Regions from separate parts of the Homo sapiens genome. Here all the other regions are linked to region 1. The links come from fine-mapping of genetic effects on gene expression. A gene starts in region 1. Each other region holds a variant in brackets. All regions are shown on one strand. Distances are from middle to middle. Region 1 holds the start of CDCP1 (CUB domain containing protein 1). Region 2 overlaps CDCP1 (CUB domain containing protein 1). Region 3 overlaps CDCP1 (CUB domain containing protein 1).

What was found. PIP is the estimated chance that this variant, and not a neighbour inherited with it, causes the effect. A credible set is the group of variants that fine-mapping cannot tell apart.
Region 2: its variant is the best candidate, but not a certain one, in a credible set for the expression of CDCP1 in esophagus mucosa (GTEx, PIP 0.83).
Region 3: its variant is the best candidate, but not a certain one, in a credible set for the expression of CDCP1 in esophagus muscle (GTEx, PIP 0.56).

Annotation. Positions count from the first base shown.
Region 1 is chr3:45,144,859-45,147,538 of GRCh38, reverse strand. It overlaps CDCP1 (CUB domain containing protein 1), which reads left to right and starts at 1,161. Exons shown (of 9, transcript NM_022842.5): 1 at 1,161-1,333. The coding sequence starts at 1,252.
Region 2 is chr3:45,113,022-45,115,701 of GRCh38, reverse strand. The region is part of intron 2 of CDCP1 (CUB domain containing protein 1); the gene reads left to right. Among named protein-coding and RNA genes, the nearest start is that of CDCP1, 32 kb to the left of the region's middle. The variant G/A (reference allele first, on the strand shown) is at 1,117.
Region 3 is chr3:45,118,620-45,121,299 of GRCh38, reverse strand. CDCP1 (CUB domain containing protein 1) reads left to right here. Exons shown (of 9, transcript NM_022842.5): 2 at 2,679-2,680. Among named protein-coding and RNA genes, the nearest start is that of CDCP1, 26 kb to the left of the region's middle. The variant GC/C (reference allele first, on the strand shown) is at 1,031.

The DNA.
Region 1 (2,680 bases):
GCTCTATTCTCATGATTAAGGACATCGAGAAGGAAGGGGTGACGCTCCTAGGAGATGATTTCCCACCCCTGTCCACAAGGAGGATTGGGGCAGCCTGGAGAGGCTCAGTGCCCGCAAGAATTAAGCAGAAGTTGGGACTGGACTGTAAACTGATGCTGTCGCACATGCTTTGGTTCCTGTCCCAAGCCTCCCAGGTTGCTCCGGGTGACTCTGGCCCAGCTTCTGGCTATCCATGAACACAAGTAGTCCCAGGGAGTCATTCTGGCAGAACCCAGGTCTGCTAGCTAAGAACTCCTGAACCATCCGCAATCTCTGCCTGTGGCCTGGACTTGGTGTATGGCCGGCAGGGTGGAAGGAGAACCCACAGGGCCTCTGAAGACAGGCAGGTGGCACACCTGCGGCTGGGAGGATTTGGAAAAGGAGTCCAGCGCCATTCATTTTTCATTCATTTTCCAGCCCAACGTTTGACCTGAATGCTTCACGCTCACACTGCACACACTACTCCATTTATAATACAACTCGAGAAGGGCACATACTACTCCATCCACAGCTCAGTGAAGGGATGCATACTACTCTACTCACAATTCAACGAAGTGGTGCATCTGCCTCTAATTTACTAGCTACCCTGGGGACCTTGGACACGTTGCGTGTCTGGAAATACTGCAGGTGATGTGTGTGGAGTAGGCTGCAGGCTCACCGTCCTGCAAATACTAGCTGTACCACCACCGGCTTTAAAGTCCAACAGACCTCTGGCCCAAGTCAAGTAGCAGAGGATCCAGGGCTTGGGTGGCCCACAAATAGGATTCTTCTCCAAAACGAGGCGCATAATGGCCTTTGTCTCCTCGACAGAAAAGGGAAGGTAGACTGGCTTCCTCTATGGGCGACCTTCGCGACTCTGGAGAAAAAGACCTCATCATTCTCAGACTTGGGAAGGAAGACTAAGCCCGGAAAGGTGGGGACAAGTCCGCTCCAACGCCGCAATGGGGAGTAGTAGGGACCCAGCAACCCGGTGCCGGGAGCCCTGCACCCTGGGAGGGAGAGGCGGTCGCTGAGGCAGGAAGAGGAGGAGGAGAGAGAGGAGGGACGCACCGGGTCAGCTCGCGATCCTGCTGCGCAGGGCGGGGCTCGGGCCGGTCCGCCCGCGCGCAGGTGAGTGAGCCAGGGCGGAGCGCAGCTGCGCCGGGCTTGGGCGCCTGGGGCCGCCGCTCCCCACCGTCGTTTTCCCCACCGAGGCCGAGGCGTCCCGGAGTCATGGCCGGCCTGAACTGCGGGGTCTCTATCGCACTGCTAGGGGTTCTGCTGCTGGGTGCGGCGCGCCTGCCGCGCGGGGCAGGTGAGTGCCGGGCTTTGGAGGCGGATGGCGTGGAGTGGTGAGCTAGCCAGCCAGCGGACGCCCGGCGGAGATGCGGCCGAGGGACGCAGGGTGCGGAGGGTGCGGAGGGTGCGGAGAGAGGGCGGGGACGGCGTAGTCAAAATGCGCGGGTGGCTCCGGGACCCCCGGACTGTTCGGTTCCTGCGCGCGCCGCGTCGGGCGCGTGGGCCTTGCCCTCCTGGAGTCAACCTTGCCCTCGGCACGTGAGAGTGTCCCCGATCGGGGAGCCTCCCGGTCCGGGAGGATGAGCCCGGTGCTGGCCGAGAAGGCGGGAAAAGGAGCTCCCGGTAGCCGATCCCAGGCGACATGTCCAAGGTGGCGCGCCGTGCGCCCCAGGGTCTTTGCCGGGATTCTTGAAAGCACCCAGGCAGGGTGTGGGAAGAGATCTTTCCTCTCCAGGCTCGCCCTCTACCTCCTCGCCTGGTCCAGAGAGAAGGTGCAAAAAAAGTGCTTTCACGTCCGCATTTCCCACTAGATCCCCTTTTTCCCGTCCGCACGCTGCATTCCCCCTCTCCTAAAGTTGAAGAGCGTTGGTGCAAAAATGAAAGCGCCCGGATTTCTTTTAGGGGGTCCCAGAGAAAGCCGCCAGGCATCTGCGCCACCGCAGAGACTGGACATTCCCGCGCCCCTCGCACTTTTTGGCAGTGGACTTTGAGGGCAGGAGGCTGTTGTTCCGGGGATATGTGTGAATTTCGAGTTGTTTCGGTTGGGGGAAGGGACCAACACGTCCCAGTGACCTGTGCCAGCCAGGAAATGCCCTGTGGGCCCTGGATGTATTAGAACGTAGTAAATAACCTGGTTTCTTCATGTAAGAACTTGATGTGAGGCTAGTACAGGTTTCGCGAGATTAGTACAGGTTTTGTGTTTTTTAAATAGAGCTCTCCAGGAAGCCATGTGGGTTTGATTCCCCTTGCTGCATCTAGGGTGGATTTGTGTTTGGCAGGTGTAAATTAGATAAAGGAATAAAAGGACGCAAGTGAGGTTGAATTTGGGCGTCCCGGTGACTGCCGTCTTTACAAATACAAGACAGGAGCTTCTAAAATATCAATATAAGCTCCAGGAATACTTCCTGGTTCATTCTCCAACATCAGGTGACATATTGCTGCATAGTAGATAGAAAATTTAAAACTTCATTTAAACCATGGCATGGATTTATAAATATATATATAAATTATATATATTAAAGTAGAGACAGGGTTTCACTGTGTTGCCCAGGCTGGTCTCGAGCTCCTGAGCTCAAGTGATCCTCCCACCTGGGCCTCCCAAAGTGCTGGGATTACAGATGTGAGCCACTGTGCCTGGCTGATG
Region 2 (2,680 bases), 32 kb after region 1:
GAAATACTAAGTATTTTTAAAGTGTAAATTCTCCCCTATATTAATTTATCAATTTAAGTCAATTATAATTAAAATTTTAATGAAGCTTTTACAGAGTTAAAGAGAACGTTGATATATTTAAGAACGCAGTGGAATGGTGTGTTGCTACTAAGAGAATGAAGTAAGTTTGTGTATTTGACATAGAAAGATGCCCAAAATAGTTTTGTTCCATTAAAAACAATGCAGCTTATAGTAGGACAATAGTTTATATAGTTTGATGCTACTCTATTAAATACACACATGTGCACATGCACACTTACATACATGCACACAAACATGCACACACAATCATACAGAACCCAAAGTCTGGAGGGATAAACTCCAAAACTCCAAAATTCTAACTTTATACTACTCTATAGGGGATGGCAGAGGGGAACAGGTGACATTTTCTTCTTTCTACTTTTCTGTACTTCCCCGCCCCACCCCACCCCACCCCCACCTTTTTTTTTTCTGTCACCCAGGCTGGAGTGCAGTGGTGACCACAGCTCACTGTAGCCTCAAACCTCCTGGGCTCAGGTGATCCTCCCACCTCAGCCTCTGGGGTAGCTGGGCACACACCACCACACCCACTTGTCTTTTTGTTTGTTTTTAAAACGACTGTACATTACTTTTATAATCAGTTAAACCAATAAAGTGACTTCCACTTTGAAAAAGGAAAAATGTAACAAGTGACACATTTCACAAGTCAAGCCTTTGAATGCATTCAGTCTCTCAATCCTAGGATGCCCACATGGCTTACTATGTAGTAAAAACCCATGCTCACAACTTTTGAAAATGATATGAAAATATCAATTTCTAAAATAATAAATCTAGACACTGAATCAGGTCCAGTGGTCCACCTGCCCTTCATTGCCTTTTCTGAACAATCATTCTGAAATCAGCATCAGATAAAATTTGATGTCTCCATTCTCATCTCTTCTTGAATAGTTCCATGAGAACTAATGAAAGTTGGCTGAGCATGGTGGCTCATGCCTGTAATCCCAGCACTCTGGGAGGCTGAGGCAGATGGATCACCTGAGGTCAGGAGTTCAAGACCAGCCTGGTCAACATAGTGAAACCCCTACTAAAAATACAAAA[G/A]AAATTACCCAGGCATGGCAGCACACACCTATAGTCCCAGCTACTTGGGAGGCTGAGGCAGAAGGATCACCTGAACCTGGGAGACAGGTTGCAGTGAGCCAAGATGGTGCCACTGCATTCCAGCTTGGGTGACAGAGCAAGACTGCATCTCCAAAAAGAAAAAAAAAAAAAAGAGAGTTAATGAAATTAGAAATCTGCTGGGGAAAATGAGTTTATGAATCACTTCAGAAATAATACTTCTCCATCCTCTGGACAGGAATCATTTTAGTTATTTAAAATGTTTTCACTGGACAGAGTACAGGAGAAGATTCCGAGGCATGCCAATCATTTTGACTACTCTTACCTGTGTGTTCATCCTAAAAAACAAAGCTCTTAGCATCAAATGAAAAATTGCTTTCATAACCTGACTCTCACAGTGTCACATGGCTGCTGACAGAGCTGAGGCTGGGAGATGGGGCTTTTTGACTCCAGATTTTACTATAGAATTAAATCAGAATCCCTGGGATGGTCCAGGCATGTGTAGTTTTTAAACGGCCTGCAGGTGAGTTGTAGGTAGAACCAGAGCTAAGAGTCACTGCCTTACTAGAGTTAAATGTTTCCACAAGAGTACAGAACCTAGCCAGAGCCAACTGATGTTGCCCTGGGCACACTGGAGGTGTGCGTGGAAAATCACTTGAGGTCTGCTTTTGAAAGAAAGAGGTGGCTTGATATAAACATTGAAGTTTCCATGAGCTCCTAAAATAGGAACTACCTTTACTAACACGCAAAGTCTAATTTTAGTCACGTTAGTCACCATGTTATCTAACCCTGTGTTATTGGTTAGACAGCATAGCGCATTGGCAAGAAAGGGCTGACCAAACACAGCCTGAGCTTTCGTCCTGGGATCTGGAATTGCCGTGTACTTGCTGCAAGTGCCAGCCCAAGTCACCTGGATCCACAGCTGCTTTGCAAAAATTAGAGGTCTGGCTTGGATGACCTCAGAGATCCAAGACTGATCTGAAATTCTCCATAATTCTATTTTGAGTGGACAATACTTTCAAATACCCCAATAGAACAGCAGTAAAGATTCACAAATTATTATTATGGAGGCCAGAGTCTATCACACCTTTCAGATGCCCCCTGCTCAAAACAACAAAACCTTAATGTTACATTGCCTACTTTCTGTTTCGTCCCCTCACTTTCCTCTTGTTTTCTCTTTGATAATATTTCTTGCTTTGTTTTAAAAGGCTTAGGAAACAAATATATCAAAGGATGTTATTAGCTGTTAGCCTTAAAAAAAGAAATTCAACTGCAGTGGTTATAAAATATCAGCATTAAGGCAGTGCAAGAAGAGAAATGGCGCCGCCAGATTCCAGCTGTCCAGGGGAGTTGCACGTTCAGAGTATATTTGCTATGTTGATGAATGTGTTGATGGGGAAACCAGTTTTAAAGGATGGATCTTGGCACTGTGCTCTACAAATTGTGAAATCGTGACTCTCTTAGTACAGGAGAAGTAGGAGATCCCAAAGCACAGACTCTGCTACAAATGCCTTCCTTCTGGCTTCACCCACTGGACCCCAGGAAC
Region 3 (2,680 bases), 26 kb after region 1:
AGCCTCAGAAGATTCTAAATGGCCACACTGCTTGAAGACCAAGCATTTGAGCAAATAAAACTTCTGCCCCTGAGAATATATTCTCTCTCAAGCTATTAATTAAAAGATGCATAGTCCCTTGTTCTTGCCAGGATTTATTAGCCGAAAGTAAAATATGGGAATGGTAGTATGTCTATGAGAAATTAAATGCGGTGAAGACAAGCACACAGGGACTAATAGTTTTATATGGAGTTGTTTTGGGGCTTAAAACGTTTTGTCTCCTCGTGGGGATCAGGCACTGCCTTGGTCGTGGGGCTACCACTAAAAAATACGGGCAAGTTCCTGCTGCCTCCTGTAGGAGCTCACGGACATCAAGCGCAGGGTTCAGGAGGACTGAAGTGGTGGGGGGAGGGGAGCACTTTAGGTGGGCTGGTCAGGGAAGGCCACTCTGAAAATGTGACCTTTGTGCTGAGACCGGAATGACAACAAGGAGCCAGCTTTTTCTAGAGAAAGCACTTTTGGTGTCAGGACCAGCATGTGCAAAGGCCCTGAGGTGGGAAAGAGGTTGGTGTGTTCAAGAAAGAAGGCAAGACTGGCCTGAACACAGTGACTAAGGTGGAGAGGGTTACACGCAGAAGCCAGAAAGACAAGAAGTTTTGCCCCAAAAATGGAAATCTAAGCACTCTTGCAGTCATAAAACTGGCCATGGCAGTGCCCTGGTGCCCAGAGAGATATGTCATTTCTGAGCAGTAGTTGGGAATTCTTCCAGTTACAAAGTCGCTTCCTACTTACTCAGGTAATAGTCATAGACTCAGAGCTGGCAGGGAGTGTAGAGTTATTCTAGCCCCACCCCTTCATTTTACAATGAAGGAACAGAGGCCCAAAGAGGGTAAAGTTCATACCTGAAAAACCATTCTAAGTGAGGTCAAAAGGCAAACGATAAACTGGGGAAAATATTTACAGTTCATATAAGGTTGGGAGATCAATTTCCATACTATGTAAGGAGCAGCTGGCCAGTGGGGTTGGAGCAGAGTGTAGAATGGAGAGAGAG[GC/C]ACAAGAAAAGGGTGACAGAAATCCAAATGTGTGATCACATACAGCTGCTGAGCTGTGGGAATACAGCATGCTCACTCATGGCAGCTGGCAGAAGTACATCCAGTCTTGTGCAGGCTAGCAGTTATGGTAAAATTATAGCACATGGCTCGTCCAACACTGAAGAGGACTCAGATGTCATTCAGCAGGTGCATGGATAAATAAATCATGGCCTATTCTGTCAATGGAATAGTACTCAGCAATAAAAAGGAGGAAACTACTGACCCATGCAGCAGCGTGGGTGAATCTCACAAGCATGCTGAGCAGAAGCAGCCAGCTACAAAAGAGAAAGTACTATAGGCTTCCATTTGCATGAAGGTCCAGAGCAGGACAAACTCATTGACAGTTTTCTAGGACTTGGAGTGGAGGTTGACTGCAGAGGGGCACTGAGGGAACTTTTGAGGGTGAGGAAAATATTTGTATATCCTGATTGTGGTGGTCACATGAGTGTATACATTTGTCAAAACTCTCAAAATGAGTGAGTCCTTTTTAATGTGTGTAAATTACTGTCAATAAGGTTGATTTTTTAAAAATAAATTTTTACAAGGAGGGAAAAAAGAATAGATGGGAAACAAAAGCTTCTGATTAGATTGCTATTCATTCACTAACTGTTTATCAAGCACCATTTGTGTGCCAGCACGATAACAGATCCCGACCAGCTGTTTGTACCAGAACATGGTGCTACATGAACTGTGAGCCCCTAGGCTCCCTCCACAGGATTTACCTACAGACGATCTTCCCATCATCTGCTGTTCCCAGGCCATCAGCTGCCCGGAGACTCATAATCAGAATCCAAGATAGGGCAGGGGCAGTGTCAGCTAAGGAGAAAGTGGCTCTCCCTTCTTGGTCTAAGAGCACTTAATCAATCAAGCAAAGCAAATGGGAAGGAGATTGGGCTTGTTTGTGAACCAGAGCCCTACTCTGACATTTGTACAATTCTGTTTAATAACCAACCCCCACCTCACTTGCTTGATACTGTTTGCTCAGGTGTTTTTTCTAAACCCCAATCTGAGATAATAGCATTGTTTTGCTCTAACTTTCCAAATTCATTGATATAATATGATTATATCTAATTTCTGCAAATGTTTTTCTAGCCCCCACTACCATACGTACATACATATGTATGTATGTACGTACGTGTGTATGTGTGTATGTGCTGGGCATATAAAGCACCCAGGGCAAGGGACAGCAGCTCTTTGCAGATAAATGTGTCTCCCTATGATGGATGGTTTCTGTGTGTAGACTTTGTTCTACTGTCATGTTGAGAAAAGGTGTGGTGGTTACTCTGGTTGTTATTTAATACTGCTCAGATGGGATATCTAACAGCATACTGCTCAAGACATCTAGAATGTGGTATAGTGTTTTCAATTTGTAGAAAAATTAATAATCCAAACAAGAAACACATGTCAGTGACCAGCTGGCAGCATCCTGGTTCTTTTTCATTGCTAAGGTCGGAACTGTCATTTTGCACCACCCTTCTTCTCAGAAAAGGAGGGAAGGAACAAAGTTGTCATAGAGGACATCCTCTCTGAACCAGATTGGGGTCGGGGACCACAGCAGTTTGCAGACCTAAATCATCCTGCTTACTTCATTTTCCTTCCTTCCTTCAGAA